4 linked regions of the Homo sapiens genome follow. The protein of the gene in region 4 interacts with the protein of the main gene of each other region in a pairwise test. Each region holds a gene or a part of one and is shown on either strand. Other genes may lie near its edges. The genes, in order: AKAP5, RFC2, AICDA and PRKAR1A.

Evidence for each region.
Region 1: the proteins of PRKAR1A (region 4) and AKAP5 interact in binary tests that used the Homo sapiens proteins (3 or more experiments, as listed by UniProt).
Region 2: the proteins of PRKAR1A (region 4) and RFC2 interact in binary tests that used the Homo sapiens proteins (3 or more experiments, as listed by UniProt).
Region 3: the proteins of PRKAR1A (region 4) and AICDA interact in binary tests that used the Homo sapiens proteins (3 or more experiments, as listed by UniProt).

The regions. Positions count from the first base shown.
Region 1 is NC_000014.9:64,468,468-64,475,003, forward strand, and holds the end of AKAP5 (A-kinase anchor protein 5), read left to right. Parts: coding exon 1-1,211; 3' UTR 1,212-6,036; downstream 6,037-6,536. UniProt on the Homo sapiens protein: Multivalent scaffold protein that anchors the cAMP-dependent protein kinase/PKA to cytoskeletal and/or organelle-associated proteins, targeting the signal carried by cAMP to specific intracellular effectors.
Region 2 is NC_000007.14:74,231,002-74,237,430, reverse strand, and holds the end of RFC2 (replication factor C subunit 2), read left to right. Parts: coding exon 1-69; exon of another isoform or gene 70-75; intron 76-1,785; coding exon 1,786-1,899; intron 1,900-5,214; coding exon 5,215-5,325; 3' UTR 5,326-5,929; downstream 5,930-6,429.
Region 3 is NC_000012.12:8,609,844-8,617,065, reverse strand, and holds the start of AICDA (single-stranded DNA cytosine deaminase), read left to right. Parts: upstream 1-4,206; 5' UTR 4,207-4,298; coding exon 4,299-4,306; intron 4,307-7,222. UniProt on the Homo sapiens protein: Single-stranded DNA-specific cytidine deaminase. Involved in somatic hypermutation (SHM), gene conversion, and class-switch recombination (CSR) in B-lymphocytes by deaminating C to U during transcription of Ig-variable (V) and Ig-switch (S) region DNA.
Region 4 is NC_000017.11:68,508,555-68,515,432, forward strand, and holds the start of PRKAR1A (cAMP-dependent protein kinase type I-alpha regulatory subunit), read left to right. Parts: upstream 1-3,875; 5' UTR 3,876-3,994; exon of another isoform or gene 3,995-4,424; intron 4,425-6,432; exon of another isoform or gene 6,433-6,565; intron 6,566-6,839; 5' UTR 6,840-6,845; coding exon 6,846-6,878. UniProt on the Homo sapiens protein: Regulatory subunit of the cAMP-dependent protein kinases involved in cAMP signaling in cells.

The sequences.
Region 1 (6,536 bases), on a different chromosome or scaffold from region 4:
CTGAAAGGCAGAAGGAAAAGGCATCCATGCTTTGCTTCAAGAGAAGAAAGAAAGCAGCCAAAGCACTGAAGCCCAAAGCTGGCTCTGAAGCTGCTGATGTGGCAAGGAAGTGTCCACAAGAAGCAGGAGCTTCTGATCAGCCAGAGCCCACACGGGGGGCCTGGGCCTCACTCAAACGTCTTGTAACACGCAGGAAAAGGTCAGAGTCTTCAAAGCAGCAAAAGCCATTGGAGGGTGAAATGCAACCTGCAATAAATGCTGAGGATGCTGATCTTTCTAAGAAAAAGGCAAAATCTAGACTTAAGATTCCCTGCATAAAATTCCCAAGAGGGCCAAAAAGGAGTAATCATTCCAAAATTATAGAAGACTCAGACTGCAGCATCAAAGTCCAGGAAGAAGCTGAAATTTTGGATATACAAACACAGACCCCATTGAATGATCAGGCAACAAAGGCTAAGTCAACCCAGGATCTAAGTGAAGGCATCTCACGGAAAGATGGTGATGAGGTCTGTGAATCAAATGTGAGCAATAGCACAACTTCTGGAGAGAAAGTGATTTCAGTAGAACTTGGATTAGATAATGGGCATTCTGCTATTCAAACGGGAACTCTAATCCTTGAAGAAATTGAAACGATCAAGGAAAAACAAGATGTTCAACCCCAGCAAGCAAGCCCACTTGAAACTTCAGAAACAGACCATCAGCAGCCAGTACTTTCTGATGTTCCTCCTTTACCTGCAATTCCAGATCAACAAATTGTGGAAGAAGCCAGTAACAGTACCCTAGAAAGTGCACCAAATGGAAAAGACTATGAAAGTACAGAGATTGTAGCTGAAGAAACTAAGCCAAAAGATACTGAATTGAGCCAAGAATCAGATTTTAAAGAAAATGGGATCACTGAAGAGAAATCCAAATCAGAAGAAAGCAAAAGAATGGAGCCAATTGCTATTATTATTACAGACACTGAAATCAGTGAATTTGATGTTACAAAATCTAAAAATGTCCCTAAGCAATTCTTAATTTCAGCTGAAAATGAGCAAGTAGGGGTTTTTGCTAATGATAATGGTTTTGAGGATAGAACTTCAGAACAATATGAAACACTCTTAATTGAAACAGCCTCTTCTCTAGTCAAGAATGCTATTCAGTTGTCAATAGAACAGCTGGTTAATGAAATGGCCTCTGATGATAATAAAATAAACAATCTTCTACAGTGACTTACTCTCCAGAGTCACGGCAGAAAAAACAAGCTTAATGAAGAATTCTTTTATACATTTGTGGCATTTCTTACTCAGTAACAAATGAGAGATTTATCATCTCTAGAACTTAAAAGGTACAATTCCAGCGCAGAAGTGCTAAAGATTAAGTCAAGTTTATAAAACTCTACCACTGAAATGCAGTCACTTCTGGATTGGAGGAAGTCAGCACAGATTGCAGTGTAAAATGACATAACATACAGGGAGTTGCTAAAATGGCATATGGAGATTGGAGTGCTTTGGGGGAGGAAGGTGTATTTATTGAGCACTTATGGTATGCCATAAGCTTTTTAATGACCTCTGATATAACAAAGTCTGGTTTCCTTTTGATAATTCAGCTCTGTGTATAGGCTAACATCACATTAAGTTTTTAAAAACTTATTTTTTACAGTGCACATATATGTTTAAAATGGTGAATAAGGTGAGCTACTTTTGTGAATGTGATTTGTAATTGTTACATTCCTAAGCAGCAGGCTTAACTCAAAAAATACATTGCATTTTCCCAATTTCAGCAGATAGTGTGCAGAATATGCATATTGATATTAAACGTGAGTGGTTTCCTAGTCTTAAGTCTCTTATAAGCGCTATTTGGCCAGGGGCAGTGGCTCACGCCTATAATCCCAGCACTTTGGGAGGCCAAGGCGGGTGGATCAGCTAAGGTCAGGAGTTCGAGACCAGCCTGGCCAATGTGGTGAAACCCCATCTCTACTGAAAATACAAAAATTAGCTGGGCGTGGTGGTGCACGCCTGTAATCCCAGCTACTTGGGAGGCTGAGGCAGGAGAATTGCTTGAACCCGAGAGGTGGAGGTTGCAGGGAGCCAAGATTGCACCACTGCACTCCAGTCTGGGCAACAGAGCGAGACTCCTTCTCAAAAAAAAAAAAAAAAAAAAAGAGAACCATTCACAAATCCTTCAATCAGGCAAATTGTTACTAAGTGCAAAAGTGTAGAAACAGGGAGAGTGGGTTTTTCCCCCGCTTTTCTTTCTGCCTCAACAGATCTGTATATATCCATTTCTGCATGGATTTATCTGTGAAAAGTTAAAAAATGAAACAGCAAAAACAAAACAAGGGGAATATTATTCTTCATCCAGGAGAAGGGAAAATTCCCAAGTAAATTATCACAGATAATATAGGATTCATCTTGCAGAATTACTTCTTTAAGAGCCATATTCATCAACTTCTCTCCAAAGAGGGGAGAGTAGATTCAAAGCCAGCCTGGTAGTAATGGTCCTGGAAAATCCTAATAATCTAGTGCAAATATTTATTCTCGGCCAAAAATGAGCCATGAATGTGGGTGAATAGAAAAGTGAAAAGTTATTGCTAAAGCACATTATAATTTAAATGTCAGTATTCCTTCATGTCTGTGTGTTGAGACCAGTAAAAAGCATTTTACATGAATATTGAAAGTTAACTTTTTCATCACTATTTTCTTTTCTTTTTTTTTTTTTTTTGAGATGGAGTCTCACTCTGTCGCCCAGGCTGGAGTGCAGTGGCGCGATCTTGGCTCACTGCAAGCTCCACCTCCTGGGTTCACACCATTCTTCTGCCTCAGCCTCCCAAGTAGCTGGGACTACAGGCGCCCACTACAACGCTCGGCTAATTTTTTGTATTTTTAGTAGAGATGGGGTTTCACCGTGTTAGCCAGGATGGTCTTGATCTCCTGACCTCATGATCCTCCCGCCTCGGCCTCCTAAAGTGCTGGGATTACAGGCATGAGCCACCGCACCCGGCCTTCATCACTATTTTCAATCCAGATATACTTTACAAAAATGAGAAGGGCTTATTTGCATTTTTATTTACATATTGAAAGGGAAGCATCTGATCTCATCAATGATTGCCATATTTTTTGAAAAAGTAATCCTATTTCAATCTTTCCTTGTGTGAAATGGCCATAATACCAGAGTGCACTTCCCTACCTCACAGGTTAGGATTCAAAGTGTGTATTCCCCCATTGTGTAAATTGAGTGATTGTGTTACTACTTGAAACAGATGAAGTAATAAAGATGAAGTATGAGATGTAAGGTATTTGTTCAAGAGCTCCACTTGGAGGAAATAATGCACATTAGATGATTTTAAATGATCTGGGTGAATTCTTGCATTGTGTATGGATTGCATATAGAAAGTATTTGCTACTTTGTCCTACAGAATCATCTTCATTTCTTTCTGTAAATACATATTGAGACCTCTAACAAAAGAAACTAATCTGACTTGGAAATTGAACCAAATCATGGATATTATTAGCAAGATTCTTTGCTGAAGTGCAAAAATATTTCCCCCAGATTTTCCTACCTTCATGCTTATAATCCGGGGAGGAGGGTGGAAATCCTGAGCAAGATGAAAAGTGTCATTCAAAACACATGACCCAAGAAGTCAATTTCTTTTAATTGTACAACTTTTAAACATTAAAAACAAAAAAGACGAGTCATCTTCTCTGAAAACACTCTTTAACTCACTATATGTGGTGCTAATGGACTTGGACAGCTACCAGCTATCATATTTAAAAGTGAACCATTTTAAAAACCTGACTAAGGTTGGTGCATTTTACAGTGTATTGAAGAATCCTGCCCTCATTTACTGCAAGGATGCCTCCAAGCCAATACACTTGCATTGTAAATGTTTAGTAATCTCATGAACAAGCAAAAAGTATAGTACTTAGCAGTTATTGGAAATATTTTGGGGGATTTTTAAAAAAACAGATAAATGGTAAATATGTGCAATGAATTTTTTGGTTAAGAAAGTAAAATTTTATCTAATACTAGGTTTTTACTTTTTTCACTGTGGTTTGATATATATTTTTGGTTAGAATGTACTGATTGTTTTTATGATAAGATGTATATTTTACTTGCATTCATTCTTAAGAGGTTTCTGTTTTTCTATTGAGAATATCTGTTGAATTAAGTAGGATTTCAGTTAGAAAAAGGAATTCCGAAATTAACTGGTCTCAATCTGATTATATGTGCTACATGGCCAAATCCTATTACAGTGAATTCTAAGGTGATTCAAATTGTTTTATTGTTATAGAAATATGCAGAAATCAGATGGCTTCAGAGTCATAAAATATTTTTCTTGTAATAGTATTTAAGCAATTTGACCTTATATGCAAACGTTAAGTGAATATAAATAAGTTCTGTTTCAATTCATGTCCATTTAACAACATTAAAATAATTATTAGGAACACCACATGAATTTTCTTTACATTTGCTGTGGTATAAATTCTGCTTTTAATGAATGTTTATTTATTTATTAGCCAAAATTCAGTTTCTCTTTGAACCCAGAATTTTGCAAAGCTGGGGGTTGGGGAGGGGGATTATTAGCTACTTGTTAACTTTTTCAGCATATTATCATTCCTCTTTTAAGACTCAAGTATTATTCACTTTGCTTCTTACAACCCAGAGAATGTGAAAATTCTCCTCTATTTTATGTAGCACTATTCACTTAACATTTTTTCAAAGCACTTTATAGGATATAAAAATAGTACCCGGTAACATTTAAGTAAAGGTAGCAGAAAACAAAAGAACTTTCAAACAGAAATTATGTTCCCTGCCACCTCCTCCACCTCAAAGAATAATAAGCATGTGGCATAAATGGAGTTGTTCAGAAAAGCTGTCTGCATAATTTTCCTTCAAGGTAATGTATTTGACAGCATGAAGTTTGTGATGATCTTACTTGGTCTACTACTCAGCGGAGTCTTAGAATCTCTTTTATTTACTTCTGAGAGATTGTTATTTCACCAGTATATGTGAACAGGCTTGCTAAAGGCATTAAAGATATGGATCATGGAGGCACCAAATTTGGCTTCTGTATGCAATCCAGCATTAACTTCATCCATACATTTCTAACTTCATCCATAAATTTCTAACTTCAAGTTACCTTATTTTTTATAGTTAAGAATGTTTTTCGAGGTTTACAACAGAATTTAAAAAATAATTGTTAGGCTTTAGAATCCCACTGTTTGAAAAGATCCTTTTAATGTCAACTTTATTGAAATATGTAGTCTACTTTCTAATTTCATCTGATAATATAGCAGGATTTGATTTTTCTGCCTGCCATTTGTGCATTTAAAAAAAAATCCTCATTTAAGATTTAGAGTTCTTTAGGTTCAAATTCCTATGATGTTTTATTGGGTAACATGAACTCTCTTATACATAATTCAAAATTTCAATCCATGGTATATTTTATGGTACATTTTGAAAAGAAAATTTGTAATGCTCCTTAGTTACAAAAATTAGAAGGAAGCTACATAAAATTCAGGTGTCCTAATTAAATTCAATTTGATTCAACACACGTATTAGGCATAACTCATACCTAACACTATTTGATAAGGGAGACAGGCTCCCTGCCATCCAAGAACTCAACCTAGGGAGCAGTGACAACAGAAACCGGGTTGGGTTAAGGCAAAGAGCCATGGATAATGCTGCAACATGAGTGGCACAGAGGGGAGTACACAGAGAGAGCAATTAATTTGGTGTGGGGAAGGTGGTGATCTGAATACAGCAGCAGTTTGAAAGTGTTCCGTTTTTAAATAAACAGTATGCTTATTTTGATTTGTGACTAGGTGTAGAAAAAAGCCTGCATAGTGTTACATATTTATAGTAGTTCTTTGTAAAAATGTTAAGTGGATGAGCTATTATGAAAGTAAAAGTTTCATTTTTTCTCATTAAAATTAGTACTAAATTACTATGGATCAGATGATAATATTAAATAGTACTCTGTAGAAAAAAGGTTTCAAGTTGAATTAATTTATGTACTGATTATTAATACAGAATAAATGTTATATTGACTCATGTTTATTCAGATCTTTTAAAAGAACTGTGGGCAAACTATGTTCATTTCCTATAACTGTAAAGATCACATTGATGGAACTACTGAGTTCGCACTACCAAAAGTTCTACTCTGCTAATTGGGAATTGGACAGAGATTTTACAACAACACTCCTAAAACAGTCCTTCAGCAAGACAAATATAAACACCTACAATGCTGAACTAATTCAGCCAAAAGGGCAGTTCTGAATTTGATGACATTTGTGAATTTGACAAAAGCACACTGTTTTCATCTCTTGATATACTCATTATTTTCTGCATTAACCTATGAATTGTTCATCTTTATGATTTTTCAAAAGACTAATCAATGTGAAAATGCTAGAATTATTCAGACGGTACATACTAAAGGTGGGTGTTTAAAAAGTTCTGTGTTTACTAAGACACTGATTTCATTTTGGTAATGTTAACACTCTATCTTTTCGTAACCACAGCCCGATGATAACAATCAGGCTCTAGGAAGGACT
Region 2 (6,429 bases), on a different chromosome or scaffold from region 4:
CCCCACCCACTGCTGGTAAAGGAGATGATCCAGCACTGTGTGAATGCCAACATTGACGAAGCCTACAAGGTTGGCCTCCTTCCCCCCGTCCTGGCAGAGGAACCGCTCACTTCTTGGGCAGAGGAGAGCGGGAGCCCTTCTGGTACCAGGGACATTATACACATCACTCCATTCATTCTTGAAATCTTACTTGGGAGACTGAGGCAGGAGGATTTGTTGAGCCTTGGAGGTCAAGGCTGCAGTGAGCTGTGATTGCGCCACTGTACCCCAGCCTGGGTGATGGTGAGACCCTGTCTCAGGAAAAAAAAAAAATTATTAATATCATGCTATGTGTTAATCTGTCTAGGAACTGGAAAAAAAAAATTATGCTAGGAGTTGGGTGCACTTTACTGATGAGAAAACTGATTCAGAGGCTGAATTCCTTGTCCTAAATCACTGTGTTTGTTTATTTATTTATTTATTTATTTATGTAGAAACAGGGTCTTACTCTGTTGCCCAGGCCGGAATGCACTGGCGCGGTCACAGCTCACTGTAGCCTCTACCTCTCAGGCTCAGGCGATCCTCCCACCTCAGCCTCCCAAGTAGCTGGGACTACAGGCACATGTCACTATGCCCAGCCCTAAGTCATGGTTTAAAAGCAGTAGAACTAGAATTCAAAATGGTGTTTTTCTCCTGTAATTATATCCTCTGCAGGAGAAATTTGTCAGCCAAAGTCAGGAGGAAAGACCAGCCTAGCTCCTTCTCCAGGGAAGCCATCTTCTCTCCAGTTAAGGGGAAGTGTCCCCATCCATTCTCATAGGCACAGGCATTCTGGGATCCAGCAGCCCCCAGCTAGCCAGGAGAGGAGGGAGCAGGAAGATTCTAGCCTCACAATGGGACTGAGTGCTGTGAGCAGATTCCAGCAGATGTGGCTGGGGTTCAGGCGACCTCAAGCCACATGGGTGTGGTGTGGTTGGTGTGGTTCAAGGTCATTGATCCAGTCATGGTTTCCCTCTGCCTACCCCCTAACAAACTAGGTTGGAAGTTGACTGGGTTTAGGGCATAGTTCCACCCAATGTGAAACCGGAGTGCAAGGCGGGGAGACTGAGCAGAGACCCAGGCCCAGGGTCCCTGAGTAGACCTGAAGAAAGCCTTCAGATTTGTGGGCACAGAGCTTCTCTGCCTCCTGAATTCACCCCAAGATGCCAAAACAAAGGCAAAAAGGCCTGCCTCCAGACGCTGCAGCCTGGGTGGGGCAGGGTGGGTGGGAAGCAGGAGGCTGGGATTACCCAGTCAGGGTGTGCTCCAGGCTCGTCCTGCAGAGGTTGCATTGGGACTGCAGCTGGATGAAGCTAGCAGATGAATGGTCTGCTTTTTCCACTTTGCTATACCTAGTCATCAGATTAATAAAGCATTTTAAGAGCTCCGGATCAAGAGATTACATGGGTGTGGTAGTAGACCATTTTGCAACACAGCTTAACACATTTGCGATAGGCTGGGCTCAGTGGCTCATGCCTGTAATCCCAGCACTTTTGGAGGTCGAGGCAGGAGGATTGCTTGAGGCCGGGAACTTGGGACCAGCCTGGGCAATATAGCAAGACTCTTATCTTTATATTACTGAAAAAAAAATATTTAAGCAAAACAACAATACATTTGCAATGTTATCTCTCTATCTGCCATGAAAATCAGTTAAGGTACCCCCATGTGACCTGAAGGGTGGGCCCCACCAGCTGTGGTGAGTCTCAAAATCACATGTCTTCTTACAGTTTAAAGTGGTAAGCAGCCTTTTCTGTCTCCTTTGTCTAGATTCTTGCTCACTTGTGGCATCTGGGCTACTCACCAGAAGATATCATTGGCAACATCTTTCGAGTGTGTAAAACTTTCCAAATGGCAGAATACCTGAAACTGGAGTTTATCAAGGTCGGTGAGAATGTAGAAATGCCTCTGTCCTCAAGAATGTGGCCCATAGTGGCCGGGTGCTGTGGGCCACACCTGTAATCCCAGCACTTTGGGAGGCCGAGGTGGGCAGATCACCTGAGGTCAGGAGTTCGAGACCAGCCTGGCCAACGTAGTGAAAGCCTCTGTCTACTAAAAATACAAAAATTAGCTGGGCATGGCTGGGCGTGGTGGCTCATGCCTGTAATCCCAGCACTTTGGGAGGCCGAGGTGGGCGGATCACCTGAGGTCAGGAGTTTGAGACCAGCCTGGCCAACATGGCAAAGCCCCATCTCTACTAAAAATACAAAACTTAGCTGGGTGTGGTGGCAAGCGCCTATAATCCCAGCTACTTGGGAGGCTGAGGGAGGAGGATCGCTTGAACCTGGGAGGTGGAGGTTGCAGTGAGCCAAGATCGCACCACTGCACTCCAGCCTGGGCAGCAGAGCGAGACTGTCTCAAAACAAAAAAAAAAGACTGTGGGCCCTGGCTTCGCTTTCTCTGCTCACAGGCCTGGCATCTAGAAGGTGCTCAGTGTTTCCCAACTGCAGTGGGAGGGAGGCTGTGTCTTAGTTCCTTTGAGTTACTATAAAGGAATACCAGAGACTGGGTAATGTAGAAAGAAAAGAGGTTGATTTGGCTCACAGTTCTGCAGGCTGTACATGTAGCATGATGCCAGCATCTGCTTCTAGGGAGGGGTTCAGGCTGCTTCTGCTCATGTTGGAAGGGGAAGTGGGAGCCTGTGCATGCAGAGACCACCTGTTGAGAACGGAGGGAGGTGCCAGGCTCATTTGAACAGCCAGCTCTCCAGGGACCTAATTGATCCAGAACTCACTCACTACCTTGGGGTGGGCACCAAGCCATTCACGTGGGATCTTCCTCATGACCCAAACATCCCCACATTGGGGACCAAATTCCAAATGAGATTGGAAGGGGACAGACGTCCAAACTAGATCAACGTGGCTGATTGTCCTGAGGACCAAGTTTGTTTCACACAGTTCTGATTTTCTTCATTCAAGGCTCTCTTGTGTATTGACTGATTGATTGATTTTTCAAGGTTAGATTAATTGAGGTTTAATTTACATAGAGTAAAATTCAGCCTGTTAGGTACAGGACAAACGCACTCAGTCATGCAAACACTATCACCATCAGGATGCAGAATCTGTCATCCCAGAACAACTCATGTGTCCCTTTGAAGCCAGCCCCCTCCCCGACTACCACTTGGAAACTACCGATGTAGTTTCTGTTTCATGGGATACAGTTTTCCAGAATATCATATAAATGGGATCATGTAGAACTTAGCCTTGTGAGTTTGGCTTCTTTCTTTCACTGTAGCAGAAATGCCTTTCAGATGTGTCCACGCTGGTACTTCTATCCATGAGTCAGTCCGTGTTATCACTGAGAAGTAATCCATCCTGTGCGTGTACCACAGTTTGCTTATCTGTCCATCAGCTGGAGGACATTTGGGTTTACAGATTGTGGTGACTGTGAATAAAGCCAGTGTAAACATTTGCATATATGGATTAGTGTGAATGCAAATGTTAAGTTTTTCTTTTTCCCAAGTAAGTTCCCAGGGGTGAAATTGCCTGGGAAAATGATAAGTGTATGTTTTACTCGATAAGGAACTGCCAAACGGTTTTCCGAAGTGGCTGCAGCACGTGCATTCCCACCAGCATTCCGGAGGATCCTCAACCTAGCCACCACATGGAGTGCTCAGTTTGGTTTTTAAGCCATTCTAATAGGTGTGTAATGACCGGATGCAGTGGCTTACACCTGTAATCCCAGCTACTCGGGCGGCTGAGGGAGGAGGATCGCTTGAACCCAGGAGGTGGAGGTTGCAGTGAGCTGAGATCACACCCCTGCACTACAGCTTGGGCGACAAGAGTGAGACTCCATCTTAAAAAAAAAAAAAAAAAAAAAACCAATAACAACAACAACAAAATAACCTAATAGGCATGTGATGAGATCTCATTGTGCCTTTAATTTGCATTTCCCTAATTACTATGCTGAACATTTAATCATGTGCTCGTTTGCCATCCAGAATCTTCTTTGATGAAACATCTGTTCATATATACCCATTTTTTAAAATTTTTACATTTTTTATTTTAATTGTACTGTATTTTTTGTTTAGAGATCATGTTAAGACCGGCCAATTTTTATATTTTTGGTGGAGACGGGGTGTCCCCGTGTTGCCAAGGCTGGTCTTGAACTCCCGGGCTCAAGTGATCCTCCCGCCTCGGCCTCCCAAAGTGCTAGAATTACAGGTGTGAGCCACTGCGCCTGGCCTACCTTTTTTATGTTTTTGAGAGACAGGGTCTTGCTCTGTCACCCAGGCTGGAGTGCAGTGGTGCGATCATAGTTCACTGCAGCCTCAACCTTCCATGCTCAAGCAATCCTCCCACCTCAGGCTCCCGAGTAGCTGGGACTGCAGGCATGTGCCACTACACTTGGGTCATTTTTATTTTCTTTTTTTCGTAGAGTTTGGGTGTTGCTATGTTGCCCAGGCCCAACTCTGGGCAAGTGATCCTCCTGCCTCAGCCTCCCAGAATGCTGGGATTACAGGTGTGAGCTACTGCTCCAGGTCTAAATCTACCCATTTTTTAATTGGGTTGTTTGATTTTTATTACTGAATTTATTTACTTATTTATTTTTGAGATGGAGTCTTGCTCTGTTGCCCAGGCTGGAGTGCAGTGGCACTATCTCAGCTCACTGCAACCTTCGCCTCCCAGGTTTAAGTGATTCTCCTGCCTCAGCCTCCCGAGTAGCTGGGATTACAGGCGTGCGCCACCATACCTGGCTAATTTTTGTATTTTTAGTAGAGATGGGGTTTTACCATGTTGGTCAGGCTGATCTCGAACTCCTGGGCTCGTGATCCACCTGCCTTGACCTCCCAAAGTACTGGGATTACAGGCATGAGCCACCACGCCTGGACTTTATTACTGAATTTTTGAGAATTCTTTATACAGTCTGGATGCAAGTTCTTTATCAGATATATAAATATTTTCCTCTAGCCTGGCTTTCCGTGCCACCACCCCGCCCCCCCTCGCCCCACCCATTTTCTTAACAGTTTCTTTGAAAGAACTATCAGCATCCTTTTAAGAAATAAATAGAACTTTAGGTAAACATAATCCATTGCATCTTAGCATTCATTTTCCGGCTGGGGTTGGAATTCCTCATGCTGATTTTGAAAAAACCATTAGTTCAGTTTGTTTCTGTTTTTATTTTTATTTTTTTCAGTTCAGATTTTAAAAAAGAACTCCCCCACTTATTAACCAGATTTGAATTTGGTTTGTTTTTCAGGAAATTGGATACACTCACATGAAAATAGCGGAAGGAGTGAACTCTCTTTTGCAGATGGCAGGCCTCCTGGCAAGGCTGTGTCAGAAGACAATGGCCCCGGTGGCCAGTTAGAGCAGAGACTTCACTGACTGACTTACAGGTGCCCTATTCTGAGGTACAGGAGCCGCGGCTTTCTGATGGGGGAAAATGCCGCCTTAGGCTGGAGCCAACATGACTGTCCTTTAAACTCCAGTGGCTGGCCAGGCACGGTAGCTCACGCCTGTAATCCCAACACTTTGGGAGGCCGAGGCAGGTGGATCACCTGAGGTCAGAAGTTCAAGACCAGCCTGGCCAACATGGGGAAACCCTGTCTTTACTAAAAATATAAAAATTAGCTGGGTGTGGTGGCGGGCACCTGTAATCCCAGCTACTCGGGAGGCTGTGGCAGGAGAATCGCTTGAACCCAGGAGGTGGAGGTTGCAGTGAGCCAAGATCACACCATTGCACTCCAGCCTGGGCGACAGAGTCTCCATCTGGGGAAAAAAATTAAATAAATAAACTCCCGTGACTTGCATGTTTGCTTCTGGGACGTCTGTGCCCCGCAAGTGTTTGAGTTTGGCCTCCACCCCATTGATGCGGTGACGGGGCGGAAAGGCGCAGAGAAGCTGAGGGCGGTCTCTGATCTGTGTGTGGGTTGACATTTTAGCTAATAAAGCCTTGCAGTGTTTGTTGGCAATAAGGTGACCATGTGAAGCCTCGAGAAAAACCAGCTTCCTGTCTCTACGGGCCTTGGCAGCCTACAAGTAGAAAAGGCGATTAGATAGTAGACCCACAAGCTCATCTCGGTTCTTCTAGAAGCCTGAAGGCGCCACTTCCCCAGGGCGAGGGCAGGGTTTGCTGTCTTTCCTATTTAGACTGATTTCTCAGAATGGCCAGGTGGCGAGCCTTTCAGAGAGGGCGGCAGAGTGGAGAGATGCAGCCCAGCCCTCAGGAAAACACCGTGATGCTCTTCCTGTGTTCTAGACCATACTCTTTGCGCTTGCTTTAGAATTCCCCAAAGAATTTCGTACTAATTTGTAGAATTGCCTTTTTTTTTTTTTTGGTAAGATACTATTTTTTTCCCTTTTTGTTTTGTTTTGATTTTTGAGATTGGGTCTCACTCTGTCGCCCAGGCTAGAGTGTAGTGGGCCAATCTTGGCTCACTGCAGCCTCAACCTCTTGGGCTCAAGTGATCCT
Region 3 (7,222 bases), on a different chromosome or scaffold from region 4:
CTCCAAAAAAAAAAAACTAAAACTAGAACTACTATATGATCCTCAAAAATTTTAATACAGAACTACCATATTGAGCAATCCTGCTTCTGGGTAAATACCCAAAGAAAACAAAATCAGTGCCTTGAAGAGATAACTCCATGTCCACTGCTGCGCTATTCACAATAGCCAAGATATGGAGACAACCTACGTGTCTGTCGACAGATGAATGGATCAAGAAAATGTGGCACGTATATATATATCAGAATAAGAATATCATTCTGCCTTAAGAAAGGAGATCTTGCCATTTGCAACAACATTGATAAATCTGGAGGACATTATGCTTGGTGAAATAAGCCAGACACAGAAAGAAAAATACTGCATAATCTCACTTATATGTGGAATCTTAAAAAGTTGAACACATAGAAGCAGAAAGTAAAATGGTGAGCCAGCCACAGTGGCTCACGCCTGTAATCTCAGCACTTTGGGAGGCCGAGGTGGGTGGATCACTTGAGGCCAGGAGTTCGAGACCAGCCTGGCCAACATGGTGAAACCCCCGTCTCTACTAAAAATACAAAAATCAGCTGGGCGTGGTGGTGCATGCTTGGAATTCCAGCTAATTGGGAGGCTGAGGCAGGAGAATCCTTTGAACCCAGGAGGCGGAGGTTGCAGTGAGCCGAGATCACACCATTGCACTCCAGCCTGGGCAACAGAGTGAGACTCCGTCTCAAAAAAAAAAAAAAAATAAAATAAGAAAGAAAGAAAGTAAAATGGTGGTTAGCAGGCATGGGGAGGTAGGGAAAATGGGAAGATGTTGCTCAAATGGTACAAAGTTGCAGTTATACAGGATTAATAAGTCTAGAGCTCTATTGTACAGCATGATGACTACAGTTAAAAAAGATTGTATTGGGCCAGGCACAGTGGCTCACACCTGTAATCACAGCACTTTGGCTGAGATGGGAGCATTGTTTGAGCCCAGGAGTTCAAGACCTAACTGAGCAACATAGTGAGATCCTGCCTGTACAAAAAAACAAACAAAAAAATTAGCCCAGTGTGGTAGTGTGCAGCTGTGGTCCCAGCTACTCGGGAGGCTGAGGTGGGAGGATTGTTTGAGCCCGGGAGGTCAACGCTGCAGTGAGCCAAGATCATGCCACTGCACACCAGCCTAGGCAACAGAGTGAGACTCTTGTCTCGAAAAAAAAAAAAAATTGTATACTGGAAATTTTCTAAGACAGTAGATTTCAGATGCGGTCACCACACACACATATCCATACAAGGTTACTATGTGAGGAGATGGATAAGTTAATTAGCTTGACTGTAGTAATCATTTCATTACAGATAACAAAACACCATGTTATGCACCTTAAATATGTGCCGTTTTTATTTAAAACAATAAAACAACCCAATTGTGTGTACCTGTGTGTTATTCTCTTGACAAATGGGTGAAAATATGATAAAAGCCCAACTCGCATCTGAGGATACAACTTAAAGGGATTAGATTTCAAATGCCTGCACCTTCCAGTTGACGCTGCAGATGAATTAGGAGTCTCCATTCTGCTCCTTGACCAACTGTCCTATAAAACTGAGAGTGCCAAAGGCAACTACCGTCTACTATCTTGCTGGTGCCCTGAGGAATTTTTTCAGCAATAATAATTTAGACAAGGCCAGGTGCAGTGGCTCACGCCTGTAATCCCAGCACTTTGGAAGGCTGATATGGGCAGATCACTTGACCCCAGGAGTTCGACACCAGCCTGGTCAACATGGAAAGGCCTCGTCTCTAAAGAAAAATACAAAAATGAGCTGGGTGTGGTGGCACATTCCTGTAGTCTCAGCTCCTCGGGAGGCTGAGGCAGGAGTGTCACTTGAGCCCAGGAGGTCAAGGCCTGCAGTGAGCCATGTTCATGTCACTGTAGTGCAGCCTGGGTGACAGAGAGAGACCCTCCTCAAAATAATAATTATTATTATTACATAATTATTAGAAATAATTATAATTATTATTTTGAATCTCATGGCTAATTAAAAAATAATTTAAACAGATTATTTTACTTGTCTTTAGTTTACTTAGGAGTGTATTTTAAGTGATAAGTGCTAAAGAGAAAAATAATTTAGGGGATGGAGGCAAGGGAGTGTCAGAATGGTGAGATTTTGTTGACATTTTAGATATGGTGACTAGGACAAATCTCAAATACCGGACAGTATTTGAATAAGGACATAAAATATATGATGGTGTAAGCCACAACCATACACAAAAAATAACATTTCAGCAGAGGGACCTCAAGGGCAGAGGAAGGAGTGTGCGCTCTTTGCGTGAGCAAGGGAGAGAGTGGAAGGAGATGCAGCCAGAGGGGTGAAGCAGAGCAGACGGTAGAGGGGCTTGTGGGCCATCTCAGGCTGCTGGCCTATACTGAGAGAATGGGAAGCCATGGAGGGTTATGACAGGGGAGTGACATGACCTTAAATATTCCAGAAGGAATACTCTAGTTGCCATGTGGAGAACAGACTGTAATCGAAGAAGGGGGAGGCAGGAAGGCCAGTTGGGAAGCAAAATGCAATAATCCAGGTTGCTTGGACCTGGAGGTAGTGAGAAGTGGTCAGTTTGTGGCTATATTCTGGAAGCAGAGATAACAGGATTTGCTAATGGAGTGTGCATGGAATTTAAAAGAAAGAGAGGAGCTGAGAGACACTCTGCCCAGGTTTTGCCAAGCAATTGGAAGAATACTGCTGTTTATTGAGATGGGAAAGACGGCAAGAAGAGTAGGTAAGGCAGAGAACAGGGGTTCTGTTTTAGACAGGCTGGAGGTGCTCAGACATCCAAATGGAGATTCTGAGAGGGAAGCTGGATACACTTGTCTTGAGTTTCAAGAAGTGGTCTGATAGATTTGCCTGTGTCCCCACCCAAATCTCATCTTGAATTGTAGTTCCCACAATTCCCACATGTCATGGGAGGGACCCAGTGGGAGGTAGTTGAACAATGGGGGTGGGTCTTTCCCATGCTGTTCTCATGATAGTGAATAAGTCTCACAAGATCTGATGGTTTTATAAAGGGATTTCCCCCTGCGTGAGCTCTCTCTTGCCTACCACCATGTAAGATGTCCCTTGCTCTTCTGCCATGATTGTGAGGCCTCCCCAGCCATGTGGAACTGTGAGTCAACTAAACCTCTTTCCTTTATAAATTACCCAGTCTCAGGCATGTCTTTATTAGCAGTGTGAGAACAGACGAATACATGGTCCAAGCTAGGGCTATTGATTTGAAAATCATCAAGGTATAGATGGTATCAAAGGCTTGAGGCAGGAAGAGAGCAGAGACCCTAGCTGCATTGCTTAGCATTGCATCCCTAGCACCTGGCATAGTTTCCATTAACAGTAGGCATGAAGTATCTACTCAGTGAATAAATAGAATGCATATGGGCTACAGTAGGAGAGAGAAATAAAATCTTTAATAGACCAAGTTCTATGAGAGCACAAAATTAAAGTCTTTTATTTGAAGATCTTAGCCTGTTTTCCAAATTCAGTGCAGCCAGTTAGACACTGAATCTGTCTGGTGAAACAAGCATTTTTGTATTTTGGGGGACTGCTGCTGCTTCTGACTCCAAATTAAGGATTTTTTTTTTTTCTAAAAAAGATGGCTCATGCAAAAATCACTCTTTGGTGTAAATATCTAGTCTTCAAGCAATTCTTGTAATGCAATCAGAAAGAAAAAAATCCATGGTTTGGGAGGCAAAATTTTTGTGTTCTAAATTCTATATAACTGAGTTCATTTGCTTAACTGCAAAGCAGGAGCTGCTAGTGCCTGTCTGTACTGAGGTTCAGAGAGACTGTGGGAATATGGGGGAATTAGAGGCTATCTGAGGCTCTTCAACACAATAACCCAAGAAGCTATTTAAATGCTCTTTAAGGTATTTACATAAATATTACTATTCTCATTGTGCTTTTATTTTGTGTTATCATGATTATAATTGAAGTGTCTACTGTTACTGCCTCCTGATCTTTGCTAGCTATGGAGCATGGACTGGGCTTTTAGAGCAGCAGCCCCAAAGGAACCTAAACATTAAAGCAGAGCTGCCCTCAATGGTTTAACCTGTGTGACTCTGCCTATGACAGCCCCACCCACCCATCTTCACTGGATCCAAATCAGGAGCAAGGCCGTTGGGGTACCTGGTGGGGGTGATGCTGTCAGGGGAGGAGCCCAAAAGGGCAAGCTCAAATTTGAATGTGAAGGGCCAATGCACTGTCAGACTAAGACAGAGAACCATCATTAATTGAAGTGAGATTTTTCTGGCCTGAGACTTGCAGGGAGGCAAGAAGACACTCTGGACACCACTATGGACAGGTAAAGAGGCAGTCTTCTCGTGGGTGATTGCACTGGCCTTCCTCTCAGAGCAAATCTGAGTAATGAGACTGGTAGCTATCCCTTTCTCTCATGTAACTGTCTGACTGATAAGATCAGCTTGATCAATATGCATATATATTTTTTGATCTGTCTCCTTTTCTTCTATTCAGATCTTATACGCTGTCAGCCCAATTCTTTCTGTTTCAGACTTCTCTTGATTTCCCTCTTTTTCATGTGGCAAAAGAAGTAGTGCGTACAATGTACTGATTCGTCCTGAGATTTGTACCATGGTTGAAACTAATTTATGGTAATAATATTAACATAGCAAATCTTTAGAGACTCAAATCATGAAAAGGTAATAGCAGTACTGTACTAAAAACGGTAGTGCTAATTTTCGTAATAATTTTGTAAATATTCAACAGTAAAACAACTTGAAGACACACTTTCCTAGGGAGGCGTTACTGAAATAATTTAGCTATAGTAAGAAAATTTGTAATTTTAGAAATGCCAAGCATTCTAAATTAATTGCTTGAAAGTCACTATGATTGTGTCCATTATAAGGAGACAAATTCATTCAAGCAAGTTATTTAATGTTAAAGGCCCAATTGTTAGGCAGTTAATGGCACTTTTACTATTAACTAATCTTTCCATTTGTTCAGACGTAGCTTAACTTACCTCTTAGGTGTGAATTTGGTTAAGGTCCTCATAATGTCTTTATGTGCAGTTTTTGATAGGTTATTGTCATAGAACTTATTCTATTCCTACATTTATGATTACTATGGATGTATGAGAATAACACCTAATCCTTATACTTTACCTCAATTTAACTCCTTTATAAAGAACTTACATTACAGAATAAAGATTTTTTAAAAATATATTTTTTTGTAGAGACAGGGTCTTAGCCCAGCCGAGGCTGGTCTCTAAGTCCTGGCCCAAGCGATCCTCCTGCCTGGGCCTCCTAAAGTGCTGGAATTATAGACATGAGCCATCACATCCAATATACAGAATAAAGATTTTTAATGGAGGATTTAATGTTCTTCAGAAAATTTTCTTGAGGTCAGACAATGTCAAATGTCTCCTCAGTTTACACTGAGATTTTGAAAACAAGTCTGAGCTATAGGTCCTTGTGAAGGGTCCATTGGAAATACTTGTTCAAAGTAAAATGGAAAGCAAAGGTAAAATCAGCAGTTGAAATTCAGAGAAAGACAGAAAAGGAGAAAAGATGAAATTCAACAGGACAGAAGGGAAATATATTATCATTAAGGAGGACAGTATCTGTAGAGCTCATTAGTGATGGCAAAATGACTTGGTCAGGATTATTTTTAACCCGCTTGTTTCTGGTTTGCACGGCTGGGGATGCAGCTAGGGTTCTGCCTCAGGGAGCACAGCTGTCCAGAGCAGCTGTCAGCCTGCAAGCCTGAAACACTCCCTCGGTAAAGTCCTTCCTACTCAGGACAGAAATGACGAGAACAGGGAGCTGGAAACAGGCCCCTAACCAGAGAAGGGAAGTAATGGATCAACAAAGTTAACTAGCAGGTCAGGATCACGCAATTCATTTCACTCTGACTGGTAACATGTGACAGAAACAGTGTAGGCTTATTGTATTTTCATGTAGAGTAGGACCCAAAAATCCACCCAAAGTCCTTTATCTATGCCACATCCTTCTTATCTATACTTCCAGGACACTTTTTCTTCCTTATGATAAGGCTCTCTCTCTCTCCACACACACACACACACACACACACACACACACACACACACACACAAACACACACCCCGCCAACCAAGGTGCATGTAAAAAGATGTAGATTCCTCTGCCTTTCTCATCTACACAGCCCAGGAGGGTAAGTTAATATAAGAGGGATTTATTGGTAAGAGATGATGCTTAATCTGTTTAACACTGGGCCTCAAAGAGAGAATTTCTTTTCTTCTGTACTTATTAAGCACCTATTATGTGTTGAGCTTATATATACAAAGGGTTATTATATGCTAATATAGTAATAGTAATGGTGGTTGGTACTATGGTAATTACCATAAAAATTATTATCCTTTTAAAATAAAGCTAATTATTATTGGATCTTTTTTAGTATTCATTTTATGTTTTTTATGTTTTTGATTTTTTAAAAGACAATCTCACCCTGTTACCCAGGCTGGAGTGCAGTGGTGCAATCATAGCTTTCTGCAGTCTTGAACTCCTGGGCTCAAGCAATCCTCCTGCCTTGGCCTCCCAAAGTGTTGGGATACAGTCATGAGCCACTGCATCTGGCCTAGGATCCATTTAGATTAAAATATGCATTTTAAATTTTAAAATAATATGGCTAATTTTTACCTTATGTAATGTGTATACTGGCAATAAATCTAGTTTGCTGCCTAAAGTTTAAAGTGCTTTCCAGTAAGCTTCATGTACGTGAGGGGAGACATTTAAAGTGAAACAGACAGCCAGGTGTGGTGGCTCACGCCTGTAATCCCAGCACTCTGGGAGGCTGAGGTGGGTGGATCGCTTGAGCCCTGGAGTTCAAGACCAGCCTGAGCAACATGGCAAAACGCTGTTTCTATAACAAAAATTAGCCGGGCATGGTGGCATGTGCCTGTGGTCCCAGCTACTAGGGGGCTGAGGCAGGAGAATCGTTGGAGCCCAGGAGGTCAAGGCTGCACTGAGCAGTGCTTGCGCCACTGCACTCCAGCCTGGGTGACAGGACCAGACCTTGCCTCAAAAAAATAAGAAGAAAAATTAAAAATAAATGGAAACAACTACAAAGAGCTGTTGTCCTAGATGAGCTACTTAGTTAGGCTGATATTTTGGTATTTAACTTTTAAAGTCAGGGTCTGTCACCTGCACTACATTATTAAAATATCAATTCTCAATGTATATCCACACAAAGACTGGTACGTGAATGTTCATAGTACCTTTATTCA
Region 4 (6,878 bases):
AAAACTATTGGGTACTATGCTCACTACCTGGGTGATGGGATCACTTGTACCCAAATCCTTAGCATCACACAATATACCCAGGTAACAAACCTGCACCTGTACCCCTGAATCTAAAATAAAAGTTGAATGAATAAGTAAATATGCTATTTTTGATGAAGATATGTTTTAGATTAAGATATTTTTACTTGGAACGCTTTAGTGTTAGATCCAAGTTTGCCACCCTTCTGGTTTCTTGGTTAATATTTTCAATTAATGCTCAAGATAAACACCCCTCCTTAGTTTAAATGAGCATTTGCCAGTGAGAAAAGTAGGAAGACATTTTGGCATTCGGGTGTTTGCTGGAATTAGTTATGTCTGAAACCACAACTTTGGGTCTCCTAGGAAGTATAAGTACTCAGTACCATTGTACACCATAAGTAGGTGGTGATGGACTTTGAAATTGGAAATACGTGGATCTGTGTTTAGCCAATGGAAACTTTAGGTGCAAGAACCACCAAGAAATGGACCACCAAAGTATTCCTTCCTTTCACGTTTTAGCTTTCTTAATTCTATTTCTGCTTATCACTCATGTTTATTTTGCTTTTATGGTTTTTGGTATTGTTTCACAAGCATTGTAACAGCAATTATGCAATTTCTTTTTCGTTTTTTGAGTGGGAAGGTCTTGCTGTGTGGCCAGGGCTGCAGTGCAGTGGTGCGATCATGGCTCACTGCAGCCTTGACCTCCTGGGCTAAAGCAATCCTCCCAGTACATGCGTGGGTCACCACATCTGGCTAATTTTTAAAATTTTTTTGTAGAGACGGCGGTCTCACTGTGTTGCCCAGGCTGGTCTTGAACTCCTGGGCCCAAGGAAGCCTCCAGCCTGGGCCTCCTAGAGTGATGGGATTACAGATGTTAGCCACCAGTTAAACAGGAAAATTTACTTATAATCCCACTACTCTAGAAACATATTTTTAAACTGAGTTTCTCAAGGACACAGTCCAAAGGAAAGGCTAACAGACCTTTGAATCAAGGGCAGAAGGCCTCTGGAGAAGGGAAACCATACAGAAACTACAGTGGAACAAATGTCATTTCTGAAACATAATTTACGAATACCAACAAGTTGGTATTCTCACAGTGGCACAGTGGCACTGAAAGAACATTTGCACCATTTGGAAAGCACTGAGGCTATTTAGTTTTTCAGAACAGCTGTCTCACTGAACTTTCCCCGGGCTCAACTGTCTACTGCCCATTTCCCTTTATGTCTCCTAAAGCCCCAGCATATGAGGATTTGGCACCTAGAACAAGGTTGAGTGTGACTGACACAGGAAATGGCCCGTGGCTGGACTGGCGCCTGCATGCAGCTGAATGGGGACACACAGCCAGGACTCAGCAAGGAAGCAGCTGTCACTCAAAGTGCTCAGCTCAATGTCAGCAGCTTGCTTGTTTCCTTATTCTTAGTGTCTTAACTGCACTTGGAAGGTAACACTAATGGTGGGACATAGTGTCACTCTGACTTAACCTTGTAGTTTGGGTAGCTCTGCAGGAAGAGGGAGAAATGGGAAGTAAATTAACATTCATTTAATATATCCCCCACTGTACTGAACACCATATATATATATGTAGACAGAGAGAGAGAGAGAGAGAGAGAGAGAGAGAGAGAGATCTATCTATTCTGCAATGGAGAGTGATTAAGATCACTGCCTGGGTTTAAGCCATGTTAGCTGTGTGGCCATGGGCAAGTCACTTAACTTCTCCATGTCTCATGTTTTTTTCTGTAACAATAACAATATTACCTATGTTAAGAGTTACTATGAGGATTAAATTAATTATGTGTAAAGCCCTTAGATCAGTGCTTGGAACACAGTAAGTGCTATACGTGTGTTTGCTGTTATACCCTTAGTAGTTAACTTCAACAAAGTCCTGTTCATCCTTTTATGACCGAGGAAACGGACACCCATGGAGATTAAGTCAATTACCGGACATGGCAGAGCCTGAAACCAAACTCAGATTTACCTGACTGCAATATTTTCTTCCCATAACATGACCGGGCCTGCTCAATGCTATCAAATTCCCTCTGCTGCTTGCCAGCGTAGGGTTCAGTTTATCAACCCTTCTTTGTACTGTCAAGAGTGAAATCCTATCTGACTGAGGCTCTTTTATCCCCATTTCTGATCAACCCTGGAGAAGGGCCAATGGTCAACATTTGGGGAGTCAGTGAAAGGAGAAACTTCCCTTTTCCATTCCCCCCTGTAAGCCTGATTGCCCTTTTGATATCGCCTATGTATCCCTATCAGAAGGCAGTGAATAACATAACTAAATAAATCATCTGATGGACAGTACCCTTAGAGCCTGGTGGATTTGGGGGAGCAGTCGGCCTCCGAGGGCAGCGCTGCCCAATAGGAATATAATGGGAGCCATCTGTGTAACTTTAAACTTTTTAATAGCTACACTAAGAATTAAAAAACAAAAGTGAAATTAACTTTAATATTTTACCTAATATATCAAAAATATTATCATTTCAATCTGGAATCAATATAAACACTATTGAGCTACTTTTTTGTATTGTGTTGAGTTCATGATTTACTTTAAACATACAGCCCTTGAAGTATATACAATGTTACTACAACAGCTCCTGGACACTTGCATATGTGTGTATTTTGCTTTTTTGTATTGTGTTGAATCCATTATGAATTTTAAGCACACGGCCCTAGAAATATATACAATGCTACTAAAGCAGCCCCTAGCCAGACACTTGGACATGTTTCCTTGATGGGCCTTCTTTATTGAGTTACAGACTTGATGTGTCTAAAATTGTACCGTCTCCCTTTTCTTCCTCCTTAGACAGATACTCTGATGGAAAAAAAAAATGGCTGAAAGAGTAAAGTCGCTTTTCCTCCGAATTTTCCCCATTAGTGCAGCTTGTCTGGACAGCTGCGATTTCTTGTTGGGTCACAGGGCATTTTTGACAATCTGCACGCTCTGCACTTCTCCCTCTGTGAGGTCAGGAGTGATGGGGGGGCACTTCAGGTTCTAGAAGGACTCAGGCCTCCTCTTGGACCCTGACAAAGTCCTTTCCCGTGCCTGGTTTCCACAGGGACGGTGTTGCCTGCACAGACGACAGCACCCCCGGCGGGGGAGAGCGGCCCCAGCGGAGACTCGGCAGGGCTCAGGTTTCCTGGACCGGATGACTGACCTGAGCCCGGGGCCCGGGCGGCGCTGGCCGGGCACAGGATGCGCGGCCCGGAGAGCGCATCCCGGCCATCCGCCCGCGCTCGGCCCCGCAGCGCAGCTGCTGCAGATCCGCGGGGGCCGCCACCTCCTCCGGGGGCTGGCAGCGACAGGACTCTCCCCGCCCCGGCCCGGGGCCCTCCCTTGCAGGGGCTGCGGGGAGGAGTCGCCCACCTGTCATCTGAGACGCCCCACGTGGGTCGGCCAGGGAGGGGGTGGAAAGGAGGGAGAAAAGGCAGAGGCGTCAAGGGAGGCCGGAGGGAGAGTGGGGTGGACAGAGGAGCGGAGGGACGAGAGGGAAGCGCACGATAGCTGCGCGGAGAGAGAGCGAAGAGCAGGCGGAGGAACAAAGGCGACCCAAGACACCCAGAGAGGGACAGGTAAGGAGGGGCAGGTGAGCAGGAAGGAGGAGAGAACCGGGCTAGGGAGACTGCGGAAAGGAGAAGTGGCGGGCGTGAGGAAACTGCTGTGGATAAGGGACGAGTAAGATGGAAAGAATGGCGGAAGACGAACGACCGCAGAGTGAGGGTCCTTCCAAGAGCGACCAGGGGGGAGGAACTGGGGCTGTTGCGCCCTTAAGGTTGCTAAGGCGACGGTTCTGGCCAGAGCGAGGCGCATTGACGTCAGTAGCCGAACGCTGATTGGCTGCGGCCAGGCCGTTTCCGGTGGAGCTGTCGCCTAGCCGCTATCGCAGAGTGGAGCGGGGCTGGGAGCAAAGCGCTGAGGGAGCTCGGTACGCCGCCGCCTCGCACCCGCAGCCTCGCGCCCGCCGCCGCCCGTCCCCAGGTGAGTGGGGTCGGCCGGGGGCTCAGGCGAGGTGAGCTTCGTCGCTTCGCAGCCGGTTTGCGGGAGCTGGACCGATCCAAGATGGCGTCACGGGGAGCGACCTGCAGGGGGACGGCCGCACCCCCTGCCCCTCCCCGGCCCGGCGGGCGCCTCCCCGCAGGCCTCACGCCCCCGGCTCCGAGTCTGCATCCTCAAGGCCGTCTGGGCGTTGGCTTTGGTGCGGGGCTCCCCAGCCGCCCCGCTCGCGCTCGCTGCCCCCACCCCACGGCTCCTGGGGCCCTGGGCCCTCCGCGGCCCTCCCCGGCCGCCTTCGCCCCCGCGCGCCGCGGCCTCTTCGCTCACCCTCCCCCATTTCCTGAAGGACAACGGCTCTATTTTACTGGGGTCCGCCATCGTCTCGTCCGCCGGTCCTGGCTCTTCTTGTAAGCCGGTAGTTTTCCTCTCCACTTTTGACGACTCGTCATTGCTAGCAGTAGCCTTTCCTCTTCATAGCGGAGTGATCTTTCCCCCAACACGACGGTCTTAGTCGGGCTCCTGAATTTCCTCTTGTCCCCTTTCACCTCTCTCCCTTTCCCAATTTTGCCCCCCTGAGGCCTCCTCGCCACCACTGTGGCCTTCCGACTGGCGTAGCTTGAAGTCTCGGCTTCCCTTCATTTTGTGGTCATGACCGTGGCCTACGTGAAGTGAAGGGCATTTTCCTGCCCTTCTTCTAGAAAATACACGGTACCTATTAACCTCTTCAGCTCAGAGCCTGTGGTGACGACCGTCCTACTCCTTGAGAGATTCCCAAGAGATCCGTCTTTTTAGCAGAGCGAGGAAAGCAAACACTTACTCAAGATGACCCTAGGGGAGCCGTAACTTGGCTGGTCTAAGGGGGTGCGGTCTGAATCAGGAACAGTTTCTCAAAGTGTTTTTATTTATTTCCCAGAATGTAATCCTTTCGAAACAATTTTGTCACAACTGAATTTTCAAAAGAATGAATCTGAGTGTTTTGTTTTACATAGAGACAATGCAGCGAAAGTTTTAAAGCAGTTAAATAATTGTGTGTGGGGAGGGAAGGCTAGGTTGTTGGGCTTTACAAATAAGTACACATAGAGAATCCGGGTAACTCGATTAAAAATATTAAGACTGTGAAGTCTGGTTATTCAGGGATTTACATGGTGACTGCATTAATTTTGGTACATTTCTGTTCGTATACTGTCCTATTACCGGTGGCTATCTTTTTGGTTTTCGTAATACATTAGTTGTTTCAAACAAAAACACAGTTTCACTCCTTAGGCCCAGTTCTCTCATCTCTACCAGCCAAAGACCTGATCTTAGAATGATTGATCATTTGAATGTTCTTAAAATATGACAATGCTTTGAAGCATGAAAGATCTGATTTATGATTGTTCTTGGTGGCCTTTAAGTATTATTTGAAATGCAGACAATTCTACTGAAGTGGATCTTCAGTTCATATGATTGCCTGACCTGGAGAAGTGGCTTGTATAAATCTATCCTAAAGTAAATGCGCGTTTTTGTTTTTGTTTTGCCTGTTTAAAGTAGCAGCATGATTATTTTTCCATGGCTTCTAATTTATGTGCTTGTCTTGGAGCCACGAACTTTCTAATGGTCTGTTAATTAGTCTACTTGTTGTTGACCTTTATGGTGAAAGTTGTCAAAACAAAATGAGTAACAGTGTAGCACTTTAGAATAGCTCTTTACTCTGTTAATTCTTTCTATAAGTTCTTTTAAATTTACAGTTTCATCTCAATAGTTTACAATGCATTATAATTGGAAAAGTCTGATTAGTATTGAATTCAGTTGCTGAGTGGAGGGGACCACACTCTTGTCTTCTACTCTTAAGTGCTTAGTAATTAGGAGTTGGAAGGAAAACAGTATATGACCCTGTTGTTAAATTAGTAAACTTTTAATTCTAGGGTAAGGTTAGCTGCTCATCATTATCTCTGTTTGCTTTACTTTACATAAAGGTACCATAATTCGAATCCTCTAAAATCCATTAAATGCAATTTATCCATTAAATGTAATCCATTAAATGCAATTTATCTATTGAATCTTCATGCAAGTTTGAAACTTAAGTGTTTTAACATTCTCCTGTCAAGATGAAGAAAATATTTTGACAATTTTCTGTCCAAATGTTTTACAGTTTATGTGGTAAGAATTCTCCCCTCCCCCAACTAAGGATTTTCCTTCTTTTACCACTAGTGTATTATCATTTAGGGGTGGAATCTGGCAAACGAGTCTGGAATAAAGGTTGCTTTTAAAACTCATCTAATTTTCTTGTGTGTTTTTAAAAATTTTGATTATGCTAGTAGTTGGCTAATCAGATCCTCACTCCAGTGGTTTGCTCTGTGACGTTAGGATACTCCCATGGGATAGAAGTTACGTATAGGGAATGTCAGATATTCTTCATTGTGCTGACTTGCTTTCGCTTACAGTTGACTTTTGTGCCCTGGTAATTCTGTATCCTGTTTACCGTTTACCTACTTCCCACGTCATCATGATTTCTTTTGAGGGAGAACTGAATGAAATTCCCTTAAGGGCCTGACTTCAGCACCCGTCTCTGCAGAGGTTAGTGGCTCATACTTCCTCCCAGGAGCTGAGGTTATCGACTCTCACTGTTGCCTACAGAGCACAGATCCTGAACTAAATGAAACATTTACTTGGAATAATGCTAATTCTGTACATATTTTATTCCCTAGTCCCCACTTCCCTGTTTAAAAACAAAATCTACTTAGAAAAAAATCCCTGTGAATCAGTTGTCTAATGAATTTAGCAAGTTAAATGCCAGATTGACATTTTGCTTTATAGTTTATACAAGCATGTGTGTGTTTTTTTCTCGCAGAGAACCATGGAGTCTGGCAGTACCGCCGCCAGTGAGGAG